Linked DNA regions of Homo sapiens. The protein of the gene in region 1 binds, or shares a complex with, the protein of each later gene. Each region holds a gene or a part of one and is shown on either strand. Other genes may lie near its edges. The genes, in order: KAT2B, KIF11 and RBM10.

Evidence for each region.
Region 2: KAT2B (region 1) and KIF11 share a complex: the UniProt entries of both Homo sapiens proteins name them as parts of the large chromatin remodeling complex.
Region 3: KAT2B (region 1) and RBM10 share a complex: the UniProt entries of both Homo sapiens proteins name them as parts of the large chromatin remodeling complex.

What each region holds. Positions count from the first base shown.
Region 1 is NC_000003.12:20,120,217-20,127,667, forward strand, and holds part of KAT2B (histone acetyltransferase KAT2B), read left to right. Parts: intron 1-2,451; coding exon 2,452-2,588; intron 2,589-5,688; coding exon 5,689-5,897; intron 5,898-7,206; coding exon 7,207-7,333; intron 7,334-7,451. UniProt on the Homo sapiens protein: Functions as a histone acetyltransferase (HAT) to promote transcriptional activation. Has significant histone acetyltransferase activity with core histones (H3 and H4), and also with nucleosome core particles.
Region 2 is NC_000010.11:92,645,048-92,652,498, forward strand, and holds part of KIF11 (kinesin-like protein KIF11), read left to right. Parts: intron 1-315; coding exon 316-595; intron 596-3,164; coding exon 3,165-3,387; intron 3,388-4,787; coding exon 4,788-4,939; intron 4,940-5,353; coding exon 5,354-5,470; intron 5,471-7,451. UniProt on the Homo sapiens protein: Motor protein required for establishing a bipolar spindle and thus contributing to chromosome congression during mitosis. Required in non-mitotic cells for transport of secretory proteins from the Golgi complex to the cell surface.
Region 3 is NC_000023.11:47,168,899-47,176,349, forward strand, and holds part of RBM10 (RNA-binding protein 10), read left to right. Parts: intron 1-416; coding exon 417-600; intron 601-2,129; coding exon 2,130-2,360; intron 2,361-4,229; coding exon 4,230-4,299; intron 4,300-6,120; coding exon 6,121-6,194; intron 6,195-7,451. UniProt on the Homo sapiens protein: Binds to ssRNA containing the consensus sequence 5'-AGGUAA-3'. May be involved in post-transcriptional processing, most probably in mRNA splicing. Binds to RNA homopolymers, with a preference for poly(G) and poly(U) and little for poly(A).

The DNA.
Region 1 (7,451 bases):
TTTTTTTTCCTTTTCTTTTCTTTTTATTTGAGACAGAGTCTCACACTGTCACCCTGGCTGGAGTGCAGTGGTGTGATCTCAGCTCACTGCAACCTCTGCCTCCTGGGTTTAAGTGACTCTCCTGCCTCAGTCTCCTGAGTAGCTGGGATTACAGGTGCCCACCATCATGCCCTGCTAATTTTTGTATTTTTGGTGGAGATGGGTTTTTGCCATATTGGTCAGGCTGGTCTCAAACTCCTGACCTCAGGTAATCTACCTGTCTCGGCCTCCCAAAGTGCTGGGATTATAGGTGTGAGCCACCATACCCTGCTGACTTCTGCCTCATTCTGTCGTCCAAAGCAAGTCACGTAGTTGAACTCAGAGTTGAGAGGTGGAGAAGTGGAAAAAGGTAGTCTATTCCTTTCGTAGGAATAACTGCAAAGTCACATAGCAAAGAGTGTAGATACCAGGAGGGTAAAGAATTTGGCCATTAATGTAATCTACCACATGGGCAAAAATATCTCTTGAGCCTAGAAGCATTTCACAGTTAGAGAATGTTTTGAAGGTTGCATTTCTGTCCACAGACTTGACGTCAGACAAATCTTGGATGTGACCAAATTTTTAAATAAAAGAAGTACCATGAAAGAGGGAAAGAAGAGGACCTTATAATATAAGAAGTGCCATATATTTAGCATATGCCACCATTCCCTTTCACTTCCAAGGGAGATATCACTAATTCATGCAGAAACTCTTTACCAGTGAGCTTGGATTCAGCCTCAGACTTTTTAAAAAAAATCATAAACACCATTAGCAGTCTAACAAGCAGAGGGCATATCAAGTACAAACCCCAGCTACGAAATAAATAGTTTTCAGCATTACTCTTAGGGAATCATGGAATTTGAGGACTTATTGGTCAGATGTCTGAAAATATTGTTACTTGTCTCCAAAAACAAACAACAAAAAATTGTAAAAAAAAGAACTCGACAAAAGTGATTTAGTAAATAATATGTAATACTTCTGGAAGAATCGTCTACAGTCAAGTTACTTTATACTGTTCTGCTCCTTTTCAACTAGAGATAGTGAGAATGCTATGTGGAGAATGTTATATTGAGATAGCAGTGGGATTCACATGTGAGGAAATAAATTAGATCTAGACATCTTAAAAATTCAAAAAATTTACTTGTAAAAATAAATACATGTTATGTCTGGAAAAAACTGGAAAAACCAAACATGAGAATAGAAAGGAGAAAAAAACTACCATGCAATCTCATGAGGAAAGCGGAAGAAAGTTCTCTCTGCCTTTGCATGGCTCTCCTATTGTGTGGAATGGTGAGATTGCATCTACTTGATAGGCTAGTGGTCCTGCTCACTTTGTGAGGCATCATTTTAGGGCAAAAAAGCATTGTAAAAGATAAAGTGTGTCATTTTATAATAGAAAATTAAATCCATAAATTTGTTTATTAAAAATAATTTATGGTATATTTCAAATATATAGCTATATATACATAATATATATGCATACATACACATATGCATATGTGTGTGTGTGTGTGTGTGTGTGTGTGTGTGTGTGTGTGTGTGTGTGTGTATAGCCAAGCCCAGCACAGAGATTCCAATCAGTGGGTAGACTCATGAACAAGCCTGCCAAGATTGAATGAGATGAGCTGAAATCAGCCACCCATCAGGAAACATACGAAATGAATGAGCTATGATAGTAAGTTATTATGGTTTAAGACTCATTTGGGGTTGGTTTATTACATAGCAATAACTAACCAATAAAGCCCAAAGCCTAATGCAAACTGATTTCCGTACATATATGGTGGGGTGCCGGTGGGGGCGGGGTGGAATTAACATGACTACAAGGAGAAATAATCAAATCAACCAACGGTTGAGGCTTTAAACAAACAACTGAGTAATTCATAGGTCAAACAGACAAAAATATCAGTAAGGCTCTTACTGATATCCATACAACATGATCTGTAAGCTGAAGCTAATGGAGTTATAGAGATCAAAATATGAAAATACACATTCTTTCCAAGAAGACACTGCACATTTACAAAAGATTGGTCTTATTTTAGGTCATAAGGTAAAAATTTCAATCCATTTTGACGTTTTGGTGTCATATGGACCATGTTCTCTGACCTTGAAGAGACTATATTAGAGAGTACTAACAAACAATAGCTAGAATCACCCCTTTGCATTTGCAGATGAAGGAACATGTGCCTTAATATTTCATGTATCTAGTTAAAAATCATCATAGAAAGTAGAAAATATTCACAATGAATTGGGTTGGCAGTTATTGTGAGCTCACAATGGCTCTCTTTCCTGTCTTCCTTTGTCACCCCTTCCCCTGGTGGTAAAGATAGAGTTGACCTCCATGCCCATCAATGCTGTTAGAAAATTAGTTGGCGTGTATTATTTGTTTTGTGTTTAGAACCACCCATTGTTTGCCTTTTATTTTGATCATCATAGGAGAAAAGAGGAAAATGACTGATTCTCATGTTCTGGAGGAGGCCAAGAAACCCCGAGTTATGGGGGATATTCCGATGGAATTAATCAACGAGGTTATGTCTACCATCACGGACCCTGCAGCAATGCTTGGACCAGAGGTCAGCAGGGTAAACCTGGGCAGCCAGCTGGTAGACCTCTTCTGCTCTCCTGGCCACTCCAGCTGTCAGAAGTGGGGATGCTAATGCTGAGAGTTAACATGTTATGCTACCCTGGTTTGCATTTAACCTGGTGGTCAGTGTGGAGAGGGCAGGAACAACTGATCAAGAGGTAATTCCCCTTGATGAATATCACATCACAGGTCCACTTACTAATAATCTCACAGTTGAAGGCATCATTCCCAGCTTTTTATCTTGAAAAATTTCAAGCCCTCATAAATGTTGCAGAAATTCTGTAATAAAAATCCATAGACTCTTTACTGAGATTCAGCAGTTAACATTATGCCACATTTGCTACCTCTCTTTCTCTCTGCGCCTCCCCATATGCTCTTTTTCTTTCTCTCCCCACTCCCCATGAACCATTTGGAACCATTTCAGAATTAAAAACACATGTCATAATACTTCACCCCTAACTATTTTTGCATGTACTGTATCTCATAAGGAAGCTATTCTCTTACATAACCACAATGCAGTCATTACTCTTAGAAAATTTAGCCTGGTTACAATATTTTCTAATACAGGGTTGGTGAATTACAGCCTGCAAGCCAAATCTGCTCCACTGGCTGTTTTTTTCAAATAAAGTTTTATTGAAACATATTGTTTGCAGCTGTCTTTGCATTACAACAGTAAATTTGAATAATTGAGACAGGGAATGTGTGGCTTGCAAAGTATGAAATATTTATTATCTGGCTTTTCACTGAAAAGTTTGCTGACCTCTGGCCTAATATAAAACCGTATTTAAATTTCCCATATAGCCAGATGATGTCAGTTATAACCTTTGTTGTTGTTGAAGGATCAGTTAGGGATTGTGCATTGCATTTAATTCTTATCTCTTCATTTGTTTAGTCTCCTTTAAAACAACTCCCCAGCCTTGTTTTGGTCTTTTGCAGCACTGCCATTGGTGAAGAGTCTTGGTCGCTAGTTTTGTATAAGGTCCCTCTTTTTGGATTTGTTGATTGTTTACTAAGGATTAGATTCAAGTAAGGCATTTTTGGTAAAAATGCTGCTGTCATCTCATTGCCTTGCATCTGAGGGCATGCAAGGCAATGACATTTCTTAAGACATACCTGTCTTAAGACATTTCTGACAGCTTCCAGGAAATGAAGAAATGGCTTGGAGATTATATTACAGTGTTAATTTTCAATTTGTCATGTTTCTTTAAATATTTATTTTATGACATTGAGGATACTTCAGAGAACCAGAATGTTGTAATAGAAAAATCTCTTCCTAAAATTGATCTTTCCATTTCCTCCTAGATGTCCAGTCTGTGAGGGCTTAAGACTATAGTTTTTTAGGGATTTAGTAACATTACAGATTAGCTGAGTTTAGGTTTTTTTCAGCTATAAAATGGGGATTTGTACTAGTCTATTGCATTGCTACAAAGAAATACCTGAGACTGGGTAATTTATTTTTTTAAAAAAGAGCTTTAATTGGCTCACAGTTCCACAGACTGTACAAGAATGGCATCAGCATCTGCTCAGCTTCTGGGGAGGCCTCAGGGAACTTATACTCATGGTGCAGGGTGAAGTGGGAGCAGGCACATCACATGGTGAGAGAGGGAACAAGAGAGTGAGGAGGAGGAGCCAGACCCCTTTAAACCACCAAATCTCATATGAACTAACTGAGCAATAACTCATTCATCAACAAGGGGATGGTGCTAGGCCATTCATGAGGGGTCTGCCCTGATGATCCAACACTTCCCACTAGGCCCCACCTCCAACATTGGAGATTGCATTTCAGCATGAGATTTGGAGGGGTCACACATTCAAACTACATCAGGATGCAGTCACATGTTTGAAAATATTTTGGATATATTAATATTTAGTAGTGTACTAGAGCTGGCTTGTACTGGAATGCACAAGAAAATTGTTAAATTTTCAGGAGTTTTGTGAGCTGGTTGTTCCATATGTTGGTAGCTTGAAGTTGACTAGCATGGCACCTGGTTACCTGGATAGCCAGTTCTGGACTAATGAGATGAAGTGTCACCAGTTAGGGCCTTCCTTCCTTGAAGAGCTGTTTGTGGAGCATCTACTTGCAAACCACTAGGCAGATTAAATAAGATGGGGAGCATAAGTGCTGGCACATGGTTGTGCTTCCAGCTATGGTTGAGTGTAGGTCAACAGATATTCTCTGGAAAGAAAACTGTTCTTTAAAAAGAGGTGTTAAGAATATATACATGAGGCCGGGCGCGGTGGCTCAGCCTGTAATCCCAGCACTTTGGGAGGCCGAGGCGGGCAGATCACGAGGTCAGGAGATCGAGACCATCTTGGCTAACACGGTGAAACCCCGTCTCTACTAAAAAATACAAAAAATTAGCTGGGCGCCGTGGCAGGCTCCAGAGGCTGAGGCAGGAGAATGGCATGAACCCGGGAGGCGGAGCTTGCAGTGAGCTGAGATAGCGCCACTGCAGTCTGGCCTGGGCGAAAGAGCGAGACTCCGTCTCAGAAAAAAAAAAAAAAAAAAAGAATATATACATGAGTGCTACTATTGGGCCTGTAATGAGAATTTGAATCTGTCATCTCAAGGGTCCTTAAAGCTCAGCTGGAGAGGATTCCTTGAAGCCAGAGGTTGGCAAACTATAACCCACAGGCCACATTTTGTCTGCTTACTGTATTTTTAAATAAAGTTTTATTGGAACAGTACTGCACCCATTCTTTAACATATTGTCTGTGGATGCTTTTGCATTATAGCAGAAGAAGGAGTAGTTGTGACAAACACCTTATGGCTCACAACGTCTAAAATATTTTCTATCTGGCCCTTCACAGAAAACTTTGCTGGCCCCTAATCTACACTGAATATCATCCGTGTACACATATAATACTCCAATTTCTCAAAATGCTTTACCTGCCTTTTCTGTCTTGTCTTCATAACTTGTATGTGTATGTGTCTCTGTGTGTATGTGTGCACACATGTGTATTTAGGACTCTGAAAATCCACAAATGTGTATCTTATTAGAACAAAGATGAGAAGCTTGGATGTGTCCCATCCCCACTGTCTTGAGAGAATAGCTCTGTGTAATTTTTTCCTGTCTCTTGCATCTCAGACCAATTTTCTGTCAGCACACTCGGCCAGGGATGAGGCGGCAAGGTTGGAAGAGCGCAGGGGTGTAATTGAATTTCACGTGGTTGGCAATTCCCTCAACCAGAAACCAAACAAGAAGATCCTGATGTGGCTGGTTGGCCTACAGAACGTTTTCTCCCACCAGCTGCCCCGAATGCCAAAAGAATACATCACACGGCTCGTCTTTGACCCGTAAGTGGTACTTTCTGTTCCTTCTTCCTTATTTCCTTTTTAAATGAAAGAGGAACTGCTTAGATAGTGAAAGTCAGCCATAGTCATCCACCGAATACTACTGCACCTGTCTTGCTGTGGATACAGAGCTTCACCAAGCTGATTTTCATGTCTGAAAGTGCTAAGAGTAATTTTCAACAATTTACAAATTTTCTTGTTAATGATGATGAAACTTTATATTTTACATTGCTGATGACTCTCCTGTGCTTCATTCTTTATAGCAGTGAGAGAATGTAACACTAAGATGTTCTGCTTTCTTCATAATCAAAATATTGGTTTTGGTATCTTAACTAGGTGCCATTATTGCCCAGGTCTGTGGGCAATTATTGGGATATAAGACAGGTTAACTTTGAAAATCCATTGCTTAAAAAAAAAAAACAAAAAACTAGGCCGGGCATGGTGGCTCATGCCTGTAATCCCAGCATTTTGGGAGGCTGAGGTGGGAGGATCACCTGAGGTTGAGAGTTTGTGACCAGCCTGACCAACATGGAGAAACCCCGTCTCTACTAAAAATACAAAATTAGCCAGGCCTGGTGACACATGCCTGTAATCACGGCTACTTGGGAGGCTGAGGCAGGAGAATTGCTTGAACCCAGGAGGCGGAGGTTGTGGTGAGCCGAGACCGTGCCATTGCACTCCAGCCTGGGCAACAGAGCGAAACTCCATTTCAAAAAAAAAAAAAAAAAAACCCACGAAACCCTAAAGAACTAAACTTCTCTAATTGAATTTATTTTAACATACATAGCCCAGTAGCCTATGGGGACTGTGATCCATGCCTGTGACAATTCAGAGTGATGCTTTAGACAGAGGGAAGGATTCCATAATGCGGAATTTTGCAAATTGTATATGTAAATTTTAAATTCTTTTTCATAATGTTTCTGTAATATTTTGGAGTAAGACTTAACTCTTCAGAGACACATACCATGTTTGTCCATGACTTCCTGCTCTCCCTGACCCCTCCTTGGCACTGGCTGTGCCAGTTCCAGAGCACCTCTGCACATACTCTGTTCTCTATTTGTAAACCTCAGGCACTTCTTAGGTGACTGGTATTTTGTTCTGATGGGAGTGCTGATGACATCTTGTGCAGGCGACCTAGCTCTAAAAAGTTCAGATAAAAGGATGGTCTAGCGAGATAGGGGCTACATGAAGGAAGTTTCTATAGAAACTTAGGACATGTCCCTCTTTCTTAGTTGGTTAATAAGGAACACCCCAAAAAGTATATTTATATAACTAGGATAGGTAAAACTTTGACATAATCTTATTCTTTCAGGAAACACAAAACCCTTGCTTTAATTAAAGATGGCCGTGTTATTGGTGGTATCTGTTTCCGTATGTTCCCATCTCAAGGATTCACAGAGATTGTCTTCTGTGCTGTAACCTCAAATGAGCAAGTCAAGGTAAGGGTAAACCCAAGGTCTTAGAAGAAGAGCAGAATGTGGGGCTTCTCACTAAGGCCTGCAGAGCTTGGGAAGATCTCTCTGTGCCATGTCCAGAGAAGGTTCAAAGTGGAGTTAA
Region 2 (7,451 bases), on another chromosome or scaffold:
TGCCCTGAAGTAACATTGCCTAGTAAGAGGAATAAAACAAGTAGACAGATTTTGAAAGCATCATAACTGGAGGAGGGTTGTGAAAGGTTTCATGAGCAAAGATGATCCTTTCAAAGGTCATTTAATGGCAATGCTGTGAAAAGACAGTGGCCAAGGCATCCATTCTCAATGCAGAAGATTTACTAAGATCACGGGCCCTGGAGCCAGACTGTCCACGTTCAGATCTGCCACTTAAGAGCTGAGTGATCTTGGGAAGTTATATATCCTTTGAGTCTTAATTCCCCATTTCAACAGTGTCATTCTCTTTTCCTATAGGAAATCTAAGGATATAGTCAACAAAATGACTTTTCACAGTCAAAAATTTTGTGCTGATTCTGATGGCTTCTCACAGGAACTCAGAAATTTTAACCAAGAAGGTACAAAATTGGTTGAAGAATCTGTGAAACACTCTGATAAACTCAATGGCAACCTGGAAAAAATATCTCAAGAGACTGAACAGAGATGTGAATCTCTGAACACAAGAACAGTTTATTTTTCTGAACAGTGGGTATCTTCCTTAAATGAAAGGGAACAGGAACTTCACAACTTATTGGAGGTAATAACTTTGTAAGTGGAACTTACTTTGGGGAGAATAATAATCAGAAAGTTAAATATTCTTGGCTAAGAATAGATTTCAAAACAAATGATATTTTAAGCTATAATGACTTAAACTTTTAAGTATAATATTTGGTATGCTTACAGATGATCTCGTTTTGTGCTTTGTTATATGTCTTCTCAATCTTGGAATTAATTTAACATTTGTACAGTTTCTTTCCTGTATTTATCCTTGGTTTCTGACTTAGTAGTTTCTTCAAAGAAGGGCACCCTGTCTTTTGATATGTAATACCTTCCACTTATATATGCTTTTTTTTTTTTTTTTTTTGAGATGGAGTCTCACTCTGTTGCCCAGGCTGGAGTGCAATGGCACGATCTCAGCTCACTGCAACCTCCGCCTCCCAAGTTCAAGCGATTCTCCTGCCTCAGCCTCTCGAGTAGTTGGGATTATAGGCACCTGCCACCACACCCGGCTAATTTTTTTGTATTTTTAGTAGAGATGGGGTTTCACTATATTGGCCAGGCTGGTGTCAAACTCCTGACCTCATGATCCACCCGCCTCGGCCTCCCAAAGTGCTGGGATTACAGGCATGAGCCACTGCGCCCGGCCTATCTTTGCTTTTTACTTTTCTCCAAGTACATTCAAACCTATTATTATTTTAAGTATTTAGGTTATTGTTCTGGTAACTAAAGGATACTTGATAGGTTTATGGATTTGCTTGAACTTAACGCTTGCATGAGCCCTTTGTAACTTGGTTTTTTCTTTCTTTGCATTAATAGGATTTTACTAACATTCTCAGGAAGTAGGTACAAAGAATTAAAATTTTTAATCTATATAAGCTGTTTTCACTAAAAGGAACTAGAGTTTGTATACAAATAGCTAATTTCAGATTTGTGATAGGAAATGTATAATATATGAGCCTAGAGATCTTGTCATACCAGAGAGTAAGGAAGCTGTTAAAGATTTCTGAGGTTGTCAAAAGGTCTTAGTAGCCAACCTCCCCATCTTCAAAGGTGGCATAATTTGAGCATCAAAAAGAATAATGGCCATAATGGATTAAAACATATCAAATATATTAAAACTTACGAACTCATAAAAATTTCATAGGTCTCCTTTGGATCATGCTAGGGAAGCAACACATTGTCCTGAAAATGGGTAAAGAAGAAGAAAAAATTTAGCATCCATCTGTCTTTCCTAAAAGAACCATATCTTGGTTTAGCAGGGTAATGAAGAAAAGTGTTTCATTAGACTCTAAGCTAATAAAATGGAGAAGAAATGATAGAATTAATATATCACCAGTATGCAACTCTTAATAAAATAACCCCTGTGGATGTTAATGATGGCTTAAACCATTTGATCAAAAGCTGTTGGGGAACTTTATAATTAATAGGCTAACCATACCTGAACTCACTGATAAATCTTAACATGAGAGACACAGCAAAGCATTTTGTGCTTGCAGTACTACCTATGAAATACTCTTGCTAAAAAATTAAACCTGAATTAAATCAAGCCTTTAGGTCTAACCAGTTTGTAGAAAATAAAGCATAGAAATGCAGTTGACCAAATCCAGAATTTGAGATGTTCAATGGGGTAAAGACCTCATGTCTTCAGCAACAAGTTTTTTTTTTCAAGGGAAAAAATATGAGAAACAATAACCTGTATATCAAAAGAGACTTAAGACTAGAGGTCCTTAAGTCTTAGTTTGCCTGAGACAGTCCTTGTTGATATTGTTGTATTAGAATGATTATTAAGAATGGGCCCTTTCACTCCAAAAGGTGTCCCAATTTGGATGATAAATTATATAGTCACCGACTTAAGACCTATGAACCAAATCTAGTGGTGAATTCTGGTTCAAACAAAGCAATTGTGACACACATTTGAGACGACTGGTGAAGTTTGAACATGGACTAGACATTTGATAGGAAGGAATCAGTGTTAACCTTTTTAGATGTGATAGTGGTCTTAAAGTGCTCTTACCTCTTAGAGATACATGCTGAAGTAAATGGATGAAATGATACAGGATTTGTTTCAAAATAATCCTGGGTTTATGGAGGAGTTGAGTGGCCAGTCCTGTTGGTAAATGTCTGTACTCCACTTGTTGGTAAATGTTGAAGCTGGGTAATGAATACAAGGGAGTTAATTATACTGTTCTCTCTACTTTTGTATGTGTTTTTAAATCTTTTATTACTGAAGGCCAGGTGTGGTGGCTCATGCCTGTAATCTTTGGAGGTCAAGGTGGGCAGATTGCTTGAGCCCAGGAGTTTGAGACCAGCTTGGGCAACATGGTGAAATGCCATCTCTTCAAAAAATACAAAAATTAGCCAGGCATGGTGGTACATGCCTGTAGTCCCAGCTACCTGGGAGGCTGAGGTGGGAGGATGGCTTGAGCCTGGGAGGTCAAGGCTGTAGTGAGCACTACTCATGCCACTGCACTCCAGCCTGGGCAACAGAGTGAGACTTGTCTCCAAAAAAAAAAAAAATTATGGAAAAGGTAAGGGAAAATATGATGTTGAATAAAACACTGGCAACTTTAATTTTAGTAATAAATATTTATTTGCATCATTTACAGGTTGTAAGCCAATGTTGTGAGGCTTCAAGTTCAGACATCACTGAGAAATCAGATGGACGTAAGGCAGCTCATGAGAAACAGCATAACATTTTTCTTGATCAGATGACTATTGATGAAGATAAATTGATAGCACAAAATCTAGAACTTAATGAAACCATAAAAATTGGTTTGACTAAGCTTAATTGCTTTCTGGAACAGGATCTGAAACTGGATATCCCAACAGGTACTTTAAAAGAGAAATAGAATTGTTAAATTTTTTGAAGTCGAATTCAACTCTATGTAGTGTCAGATGTTCAGAAAAATTAGGTCCTGCCATTGCCTGACAGAAATTTAACATCTCACTGTAATCAACTCAAAATGGGAAAACTGGAACCTTAAAATAGTTTTAATCAAGTGTCATGATACAGGTGGTATCACAATTCAGTATAATTTCACATACTTTCAGGGAGTTGACTTTGTTAATAGGGGATTTTTTAAAACAAATACAAACCTAGCACTGTTTGTAAAAGGACATTTTAATACCACAAATATGGGAGAGATGTAACTGACTAAATCTAGTTTAATGCAAAGTTTACCACATTGTGCATTTTGTTCTGTGTCCCTCTCATTTTGTCATAGACTATTGCCATTTAGGAATCCCTGTTTTAAGAGATCAGGGATCACCATGGACCATTAGCATTTAGGAATCAACATTTTGAGAGATCACATATGGCAAAGATCATTATAGGCTGTAATGATTCAGGGAGGTCTTCATGGAAGAGATGTAACAAGCTGTTTTACACAGCATGAATAATTGGGTTCTTCATTGGATTATGGTAATGGTTGCACACCCTGTAAACTCACTAAAATCCACTGAATTGTACACATAAAATGAGTGTTTTATGGTATGTAAATTATATCACAAAACTCTTTTTTTTTTTTAATTTAAAAAGCAATTGTTAAAAGGGGATGGTGCTACATAGAATGTTGGTTTATTTATTCCCCAAGAGACCTGTAGGATTTACTGTCTACTTTTCAATGAAGTTAGGAATGTAAATGTTGAGTGAAAAGGCAAGTACTTTTGTAAATCATGAGAGCATGAGCTTATTACAGAGAAATATAACTGGGGGCCTGATGCGGTGGCTCACACCTATAATCCCAGCACTTCGGGAGGCAAGGCAGGAGGATCGTTTGAGCCCAGGGGTTCAAGACCAGCCTGGGCAACATAGTATATGTATATAACTAGTTAATATTTAACCACCACACCACATTTATAGTGAAATGATTACTCCTATCAAAGTAATCATGTTGGGAAATCTACTCATTCCAATAATGCTGCCATTTTTTTCAGAACACTATAACTCCTTTTAGAGCTTATAACACATCTTTTATATATCCTCAGAGATGGTAAACTTCATGTTTTAGAGAGTAGGATGAATCTTGAAAACAGTAAAGTCTGTCATCAAATTAGAAAGTATTGTTAGTTGCAAACAATGTCTGACAGGTAGCAAGACTGATCCTCATATATGGCAATTATATTTTTATATTTTTAGAAGACAAGATTAATTAGGAAGTTTTAGGTTTTTTTAAAAATATTTACATCTCATACTTTAATTTTTACCTCTTATCTAATGTCCGTTAAAGGTACGACACCACAGAGGAAAAGTTATTTATACCCATCAACACTGGTAAGAACTGAACCACGTGAACATCTCCTTGATCAGCTGAAAAGGAAACAGCCTGAGCTGTTAATGATGCTAAACTGTTCAGAAAACAACAAAGAAGAGACAATTCCGGTAAATTTAAAGGATCATATTTTATAATAGAACTCTTTTATGAACTCTTGATGTGGCTGACTTCATGTGAAGAATTTTACTGTTTACCCCTCAATCTTACCCCGCCTCTCATTAATGATAGGCCTAGCCCTTAGGCTTGTTTCTTTTAATCTTACTAGTTTTTAAATTATGCTAGTAGATAATAATAGCCAATACTTAATATTGTGCTTAGTAACATTGTTATATAGGAACCTCTACTCTCTATAAAAATATATTAGGAATTATTTTCATTAATTTGTAGACTTTCTAATAATTTTGTTGAGGTTTAACTTTTATATTATACCATGGGCATTGTGTTATACTCAAAGCTGCTGTTACTCTTGTGATGACTTTTAAGCCCTTGGACTTAGTCACTCATCCAGTTTCTTCTTTTAGGATGTGGATGTAGAAGAGGCAGTTCTGGGGCAGTATACTGAAGAACCTCTAAGTCAAGAGCCATCTGTAGATGCTGGTGTGGATTGTTCATCAATTGGCGGGGTTCCATTTTTCCAGGTATGTCATATCAGATAACCCTTCCACATCTGATGTAAGTCATTCATTTACTATTCATTATAAAGGTATTGTTCGTGGTGAGCAGAACAACAAAAACCTTTCAATTATTCCTTAGGATGGCTTGTTAACGCTTATGATTTGAATTATTTACAAAAATCTGATATTGATAAGGGGTTTTCTGTAGAATAAATGAAGGCAGAATTTGACTTAATCTACATCCTTAGCTGATAATCTTTAGCTATTGTATTTATTCCTTTTCTGCTTGCTATATACTCAGACACTGAGAGCAGTCATTTCTCTTCCTTCTACCTTTGACATGTAAGTCTTGGAACCTATCTCTGCCCATAATCAGACTTTGAAGGCAAAGTGATTGAAAAGATTGAGAGACTGGAGGCCTCTTAGGTTATATTAGTGATTTCTCCTGCCTGAGGCTCTTCTCTTGTAAACTGTTGCCCCATGTTTCCTGAGCACCTTGCCTGCTCTAATCCAGTGTAATTAAATCCTGTGACCTCTCCTACCCACTCTTCTTTTTTTTTTGAGACTGAGTCACCCAGGCTGAAGTGGAGTGGCACGATCTTGGCTCACTTAACCTCCGCCTCCTGAGTTCAAGTGATTCTCCTGACTCAGCCTCCCGGGTAGCTAGGATTACAGGCATGCACCACCACACCTGGCTAATTTTTTTGTATTTTTAGTAGAGACAGGGTTTCACTATGTGGGCCAGGCTGGTCTCAAACTCCTGACCTCAAGTTATCTACCCTCCTCGGCCTCCCAAAGTGCTGGGATTACAGGCGTGAGCCACTGTGCCCAGCCCTCTACCCACTTTTTTTTTTCTTTTGAGACGGAGCTTCGCTCTTGTTTCCCAGGCTGGAGTGCAATGGCACGATCTTGGCTCACCGCAACTTCCACCTCCTGGGTTCAAGTGATTCTCCTGCCTCAGCCTCCCGAGTAGCCAGGATTACAGGCATGTGCCACCATGCCTGGCTAATTTTGTTTTTTTTTTTTTTTTTTTTTTTTTTTTTTTTTTTTTTTTTAGTAGAGGGGGTTTCTCTGTGTTGGTCAGGCTGGTCTCGAACTCCCAACTTCAGGTGATCTGCCTGCCTCGGCCTCCCGTAGTGCTGGGATTACAGGTGTGAGCCACCGGCCCGGCCCCTCCTACCCACTTTTTAACACTGTTGAGAACATAGTTGGTTTATGATTCATCTCAGCATTGATGACTGAGTACACAATCAATGTCACCAGTCCCTTAATGTTCTCTATGGGTAAGTAGGAGGATTCCAATGAAATACAACTTCCAAGTGAGGCTCTATAAAGTGCTGGTATCTTTTCCTCTAATTTGAGGGTACAAGCCTAGACAGAGTGTGTGAAGGAAAAATTTCCTTACGTAGGACATTGGTATCTACATTTACAGTTGAAGTTCTACTTCTGAGATGCATATGCTTGTACCTTTTTTTTTTTTTTTTTTTTTTAAATATATATAGAGAGAGGGTCTTGCTATGTTGGCCAGACTGGTCTTGAACTCTTGGCCTCAAGCAGCCCTCCTACCTCAGCCTCCCAAAATGCTAGGATTACAGGCATGAACCACTGCGCCTGGCTGCTTGTACCTTTTTTGTGTGTATGTCTTGTTTTGTTTTTTTGTTTTTGAGACGGAGTTTTGCTCTTGTTGCCCAGGCCAGAGTGCAATTGCCTGATCTTGGCTCACCACAATCTCCGCCTCCCGGGTTCTAGCGATTCTCTTGCCTCATCCTCCCGAGTAGCTGGGATTACAGGCATGCACCACCACACCTGGCTAATATTGTATTTTTAGTAGAGAAGGGGTTTCTCCATGTTGGTCAGGCTAATCTTGAACTCCCGACCTCAGGTGATCCGCCCGCCTCGGCCTCCCAAAGTGCTGGGATTACAAGCGTGAGCCACCGCGCTCGGCCTGTAACTGTTTTTTAATAGATCTACAGCTCCTTCCCTTAAGGTCTAAAGATTCTCCATC
Region 3 (7,451 bases), on another chromosome or scaffold:
GCCACAACCAAGGTGCCCCATGAGGGAAGCCAGTGGCATGGACCAGAGAGTGACATAGGGATGGAGAGAGGCAGGTTGCACTTCAGAGATGTGGAGCAGGGATTTAGGAATCCCTGTATGGGGGCGGGCCTGAGGGCTTCCAAAGAATAGAGTAGGGGGAGGGAAAAATAGAAAGTTTACAGGGTGAGAAACCTGGCAGACACTGCCTTAACCAGATGACCATGGTTAACATCACCAGAGCTAAGTCATGGTGGTATCATGTACTTCTTTCTCTGATAGGATCAGAAGGGCACCTCACTTCTGTTGTATGCTCCTCCAAAAAAACCAAAACCCTACGAGAACACATCACCTGGGCCTCTTGCACCTTTTAGAAAGGGCAACCTTCTGATCCCTCCCCATCCTTCTTCCTCCACTAGTGGTGGTCGTGGTGACAGGACTGGCCGCTATGGAGCCACTGACCGCTCGCAGGATGATGGTGGGGAGAACCGCAGCCGAGACCACGACTACCGGGACATGGACTACCGTTCATATCCTCGCGAGTATGGCAGCCAGGAGGGCAAGCATGACTATGACGACTCATCTGAGGAGCAGAGTGCGGAGGTGAGGAGGGGGCGCGCTGCGCCAGGCCTGGCTGGGATGGGCTCCCAAGGGCCCTCTGTGTCTGGCTGCAGCACCGTGTGCAGGCAGCTCTCCACTCCCGTGCCTTCAGACTGTGCTCGGTGGCTTTGCCTCACCTGGAGGGCCTGTTCCCACTCCCCTCTCTGAGGGCTCCTCTCCCAACCTGGGTCTCCCTGGCTTCCACATGCTTGGCTCTGTACTTCTGAGGGCCCCTGGCCACCACTCTTTCCCTTTCTCCCTGTTGTTCAGTTCGGGCCCATGGCTCACTGTGAACCCTGTACTGCCCGCTCCCAGCCAACTTGGGCACTTGAAGAGCCTCTTCCATGGGACCCGGCGTCTGGGGTTGGGAGGACAACAAGGGGACTGCAGACCACCAAGCTGAGGAGCTCTGGGAGGCCAGCCATGGGCATTCCCAGTGGTGATAGAGCCCCTAGACAGAAGGGAAGGACCCTTCTGGAGAAGCCAGTGCCATGTTGGGTAGTTCACCCTAGCCTGCGGGATGAGGCGCGATGTTTACACCATCAGGGAGCCCCCACCCGAGGGGAAGAAACAGGCTTGCCTTAGGGGAATCCCAGTTGGAGGGGCAGTCAGGGACCTGGTCCATGCGAGCAGGCAGCTCTCCTGTCCAGCAGGCTGGGAAGGGAGTTCTTGCAAGCCCAGCCCTGGGGGGCAGTCTGTGAGCTGCCCACTGCCCTCTGGAGGGTCCAGGGCAAAAACCCCTTTGGTGGACTGCCAGGCTTCTCCAGTGGCAGCTGTCAAGCTGTGCCCAGACGTCTCCAGGAGCACTGGGCCCTGGCCAGGGTGGGAATGGAGCACCAAGTTATCTGGTGCTTCCCCACTGTGGGCGGGAGGGCTTTGGCCCCAGGCCTGCTCTGCTTAGTCCTGGAATGGATGGATTGGGCAACAGCCCAGAGCCCAACAGCCATACCGTTTTGAGCGTGGTGTGTGGTGGAGGACTGGCCAAGGCTGAGGATCAGGGACTGAGGAGGGAGTGTCTGCAGCCCTCACACCACCTCCACCAGCTCCTGCTGCCTGGCTCTGGCTGAGATCTGAAGCTGTTCTTATGCCCCCAGCTTGGTTGCAGGGTGGAACCGTAGGAGACATGCAGCCTTCGGTGGTACAGTGAAGCAATTGAGCACACCCCCTGAGCTGGCCAGAGAGGAGAGGAAAATCAAGGGTGGGGTCTGGTGTGCTGACCCCAGGCCATCTTGCCCCAAGGAGGTTTAAGCTGTGTCTTGTCAGCTACCTTTGGGAGTTCCCCCCACACCAATACTGTCACCTACCTCTCCCCACCCACTGAAGGCAGCCCCCAAAAGGACCCCATGGAGAATTTACAGTCCCAGAAAGATTGCAGGCCGGGGCCTGCCCACCCTGCCTGCCTGAGCCTTTAGCCGGAGCCCGCACATCCCTGGCTTTCAGAGCCTGCCTGCCTCACAGAGCCAGCGGCCAGCTCCTAGGCCTGCCCAGACTGACTGCCCGTCTGGTGTCACTCATCTCATTCTGTCGGCCAGGATTCCTACGAGGCCTCCCCGGGCTCCGAGACTCAGCGTAGGCGGCGGCGGCGGCACAGGCACAGCCCCACCGGCCCGCCAGGCTTCCCCCGAGACGGCGACTATCGGGACCAGGACTATCGGACCGAGCAAGGGGAGGAGGAGGAGGAGGAGGAGGATGAGGAGGAGGAGGAGAAGGCCAGTAACATCGTCATGCTGAGGATGCTGCCACAGGCAGCCACTGAGGATGACGTACGTGCCCCCCATGGCCCCGGGCAGGAGGCCAGGCTGGGTCTCCTCCAGGGCCCTCAACTTCTCCCCACCCCTCCCTCACCTGCAACCTCAGCGCCTTTCATCCCTTCTCCCCCTCCAGCTCCTATCCCCCAGCACTGATCCGTCCTCTGTGGGCAGGTCCCATCGGCCCCCCGGTCTGGAGGGAGGAGTGTCAGAGAGGCCGGCTTGGCCAAGGGACATTGGCCATGGGTGTCTGGTAGTGGTGGGTATGGGCGGGAGAAGAGCAGTCCTGCACATTCCACTGGTCATCCAGCCATTTTGCATGTGTGCATCATGGGCCAGACGCTCACCGGGCCAGTGCTGGCTATTGCTGGTAGCAGAGATGACACTGGGGCCCTGTAACCATTGGGGGAGGGATGGGATTTTCTGAAATTTCCTTCTCTTTTTCCCCCATCCTTTTTTGTCAGCAGCCTGGCCTGGCCTCAGAGCCTTGGGTGGCTGCTAACAGCCTCCACGCCTGCCTCCCTTTCCTCCTGTTTCCTTTTCATACATACTTCTCATGACAGCCACACTGAAGCCCCACGAGGCCTACCAGAATAACCTCCAAGAATAGTGTCCTGATCTTGGTCCTTCTTAGTCTACTCCGCCGCCCCTCACCCCCTACCCCCATGAATTCTCTGATCAGCCCTCCTCTGAAATCTGCTAGCTGCTCATTTTGTAACAGAGAAAATCCCACTTGTGTATTTGAGGGTTTCTAAGGTCTGGCCCACCTGCCCTGTTCAGGGTCAGACAGTAGCTGGTTGCTGACATTTGTTGAGAATGTATCTCAGGGTGGGCCATGTGTTAGGTATGATTCAGTCCCCATGGCAGCCCAGCAGGGAAGGTACTCTTTGTATTCCATCCTTCGGATGAGGAAACCAAGCCCTGAGTGGGAATGTGACTTGCCCCAGGTCTCATAGCCAGTGAGTGGCAGAGCAGAGCTGGAGTCTGAACCCGGGCAGCTGGACCCTAGAGCCCACTTTTTGCTGCTTCCTCAGCCTTCCCTGAGTTTGGAGTCCTGATAAGCTCTTCTGTGTGTTTTTCCTTTTCACCCTGTGTATGGGTGTGTGTAAGGCTAATGTCCTGTCTGTTGTTTAACCTGGTGGGGAAACTGAGGCCCAGAGACATGAAGACTCCTTCCCAAGAATGGCTGGCATAGGCTCCTGGTCCTCAGTGAGAGACCTCACTGGCCTAGAGACCCTGCCTCACCTGGGCCAAATCCTGAATTGCCTCTGCAGTTTCCCTCTGGCCTACTCCATCTGGGAAGCAATCCCCAGGACTACATCTTTTTGCTTTTTGTCTCCACCCTAAGTTATTGCTACAGTCATGGTCTAGGGCACATGGCTGGGATTTGCTCAGACTCCTGTCCTCCCCAGTTTGACATTTATGTCATGGATCTCTTTTGACGCAAGCTGCAGGTCAGCAGGGCAGGGGCGGGGGTGCGGGTTATCCCCTTGCCAAGGGCAAGAATTGCATCCCAGGTTTCCTTACTTCGTGGCTGCCAGCGAGCCCTTTGTCAGATCACCCTGCCCACCGTTCTTAAGTGGCTGGCTCACTTGCTCTCTTGTTCTCTGTGCCCCTGAGGGTCGTCCTGCTGCCATGCTTTACCTTGCTCTGTGCCCATTTCTTCATTTGATTCACTTTCTGCAAGTCTGGGGCTGAAAGTCAAGACTGTGAACTGGTGTGGGCCTGGGGCTGTTGTCACTCAGGGAAAAGCTGCGAAAGAGGCGGAGGAGACTGTGTGCACATCACCGATGACCCCTCGGGATCCAGAGGCCTCCAGCCAGCCTCAGGTACCCAGCGGCCCCATTGTGCTGAGCCTGCCCTACTCTGTATCTCCCCGTATAGATCCGTGGCCAGCTGCAGTCGCACGGCGTGCAAGCACGGGAGGTTCGGCTGATGCGGAACAAATCTTCAGGTGAGCTTTTGTTCTAGTGCCCTCCCCTTCAAGTGGCCAGCCTCAGCCTCCGAATCTCCCTCCTGCCTCTGCCTTCTCCCCCACTCCCTCCACCACCTTCCTGCCACAGCTGGGAATGGGCAGCGTGGGGGGTGCCCTCTCTTCTCTCCCACTCCCCACACTCTCCTCACAGCTCCAGCCAAAAGCCTCTTCAATGGGGCTGTCGGGGCAGGGGTGCAGCTCTGAGCTGAGCTGGGTGCTCCCTGGGGTCAGGGCCAGGGCCAGGCTCCCAGGCACCTCCTCTCTGGGACTCTGAGTATCTGAGATGGTAACCCCCTCCCATACACTCCCTTCCCTCTCCTTTCTTCTCCTTCCTCTGCCCCTCACTTTCCCCCACATTTTTTGGTAACAGCCTCTGACCAGAAAGTAGCTCTGACGTGGTGGTCCCACATGTGTGTCCCAAGGGGGAAGCAGGGGATGGCTCTTATCCAAGGACACATCCCAAGGAACAGCCAGGACTTCCTGGCCTCGCCTGTTCCCTCCCTCCCTCCCTCTTGCAGGCTGCTTGGAGCTGGCCTGAGGTTAGCAGGGTGGTGGTGGGGGGAGTTGTCTCTACAGGACCTCTGCCCAGGCTCCCCAAGGCAGGCACAGTGGGGCCTCACTCTGCCTGGGCTTCTCTCTCCATCTCTCAGTCTCTCCTCCCCACACCTCCATCTCTCTCTCTCTCTCTCTCTCTCTCTCTCTCTCTCTCTCTCTCTTTCTCCCTCTCTCTCTTTCTCTCTCTCTGCCCCCCCCAACTATATTATTCATTCCATCCTCCTATGCATCCTAACGGTTATTCTTTTGAACATTAAGCATGCCCCCCCAAGCCCCTCTCATCCAAGCCCTCCCCATGTATCTGCCTCTAAAGGACATGCTATCCTGAGGCCTCAACCCTGAATCCCTTTCCCAAGCCTGGAATCTTGGTTGCATGTAGGTCTTGCTCTGCATCACCCCAACTACACCACACACGGACAGCTTCTGGGTCTCTCTCTCCACAAGGAGGTGTTCCAGGTGCGGCCTTCTCAATGGCCCTGGGCGCTTCTCCCAGGCACCCATTGATTCTTACCTCTAAGGTCCTCCTGGCCAATCCTGGCCACCATTCTCCTTTTGTCCAGGGGAACCTGGACTGTTTGTGGCTGTAGTCTCCACCCTGTGGCCCTGAGGTGGCTCCCTAGCGAGGCCCGCCTCCCCTGCGCTGCGGTGAGGCTGAGATGAGGTCGTGTCTTTAACCGCCCCTGGTTTCCAATGGGCCAAGAGCCTTCCTAGCCTCGCAGAGCAGCCTGGCCCAGCTTCTCTTTTGCTCCTGTGATTCAACACCTGTTACAGGACCCCTCCTGGGCACCCCTGGCCTTGAGCTGGGCCCGCCCTGGAGTTACGTATTGTGGCTTGTGTGGAGCCAGCAGCCTGCCCACCATCCCCTCCCTCCTTCTTTGGAGGCAGATCTCTCGTATTCTTTCCCTCCCAGCTGCTTCTCTCCGTCTCTGTCACCCCAGGCTGGCTGGGCAGGTCTGCCCGAGCCCCATCTCTCTCTTCCCAGTTGGTGTGTGTGTCTCTCCCCCTACCGACCTCTGGCCTCTGTTTTTCTCCCTCCACCTTCCCTGCCCCACCTGGCCATCTACCTTGCCCCCCACGCCCGCTAGTCTTTCTCTCTCTGATTGCCTCTTTCTCTTTCTTCCTTTTTCCTCTTCCCCTTTCCCTCTCTGCCCCCCGTCCTCTCCCCTCGGGTCCCGCCCCCGGGAACGCCGTGTGTCCAAAGCTGTTGACTAACCCACTGCGTCTGTATCTGAATGCTGTCTCCAGGTCAGAGCCGGGGCTTCGCCTTCGTCGAGTTTAGTCACTTGCAGGACGCTACACGATGGATGGAAGCCAATCAGGTTGCTTTGCCGCACTTGAACCCCCCCCCAAACAAATACTACTTTGTAATCGAGCGCTCCCCATCGCCTGATTCTTATGGACACAGTTCCCTGCCCTGTGGCCCTGTGTCCCATCCCCCCGCCCCCTCTCTCCCCTTCCTGACCCTCACTATCTCCTCTTCCCATCTCTCGCTACCCCACTGGGCTTCTCATCCAGAGCCCACACTCACCACTGGCCCCTTCCTACCACCAGGCACTAGTGCTGCCCCTTCACCTCTCCCAGCTGAGCGTTCAGAGAAAGAGCTGCCAGGGTGGGTTCTTTCACCTAGCTTCCCACTCCCCCGGGGCTGGTGGGGGGGGCACCCCTCTCTGGGGTTAGCCAGAGCCAGGACCTCATTCCACCCTCAGGACCACTGGAAGTCCTGCCAGTGAGGAGCTTAGCTATTGGCACAGTCACTAGCAAGACTCATTTTGTCAGCCCCATCCCTGCATGTGAATTTGGCCCTTTGATTTTCATGCAAGGGGACAGCACTGCTCTGTTGATCTCAAGTTCCCGTCGAGTATGATAGTTTTATCGACACCCTGGCCTCACTTCGCCGCCCCTACCCTTCCTATCACATCTCCACACTCGCAGGAGGCACCACCTCAGGCAGCTCTGTCTTCTCGGCAAGGACCTGTGCACAGTCAGCCCTGGGGGGAGCCTGTCCCCCAAGCCTGGCACGGGATCCCAACTCAGCAGCTTTGGGACCTCCGAGACCCAAAGATCTGCCTGGTCACCCACCCCTGCCCAGATCCCTGGTGTAGGGCACTGGAGAGCAGTTTCAGGGGAGGAAGGGGCAGAGGTGGTAGAATGGGGGATCCCGGCAGAGGCAGCCCTGGGGCCGTCTCCTCGGGGTTGGTAGGCTAGTGCCATGGGCCCAGGACCCAGCCATCCATGGGAAGACGGCCTCATGGCAGAAACTTCCATCTGTTCGAAATGGCTCTTTCTTTTTCCCCTTCTCCAGCACTAGCGCACCTGCGCTCTCTTTCTCTTTTTCTCCCCTCTCCCTCCCCCTCCCTGTCTCCCCTCACCCCCCAAGTGTAGCCTGTGTAGTCCTGGCCCTGGGTGTGGCCTGGCAGTGTCAGGGCCGAGTGGGGGTTTCTCCCCACTGTCCGGCAAGCGTCGGTCAGCCGAACACTGTGTGCCTGGTGGTGTGTGTTCACATGTGTGCGTGCGTGTGCCCGGCAGAGCAGCAAACAGCTGCGCCCGAGAGCTGTGGCGCTTTCCCTCCCTACCTC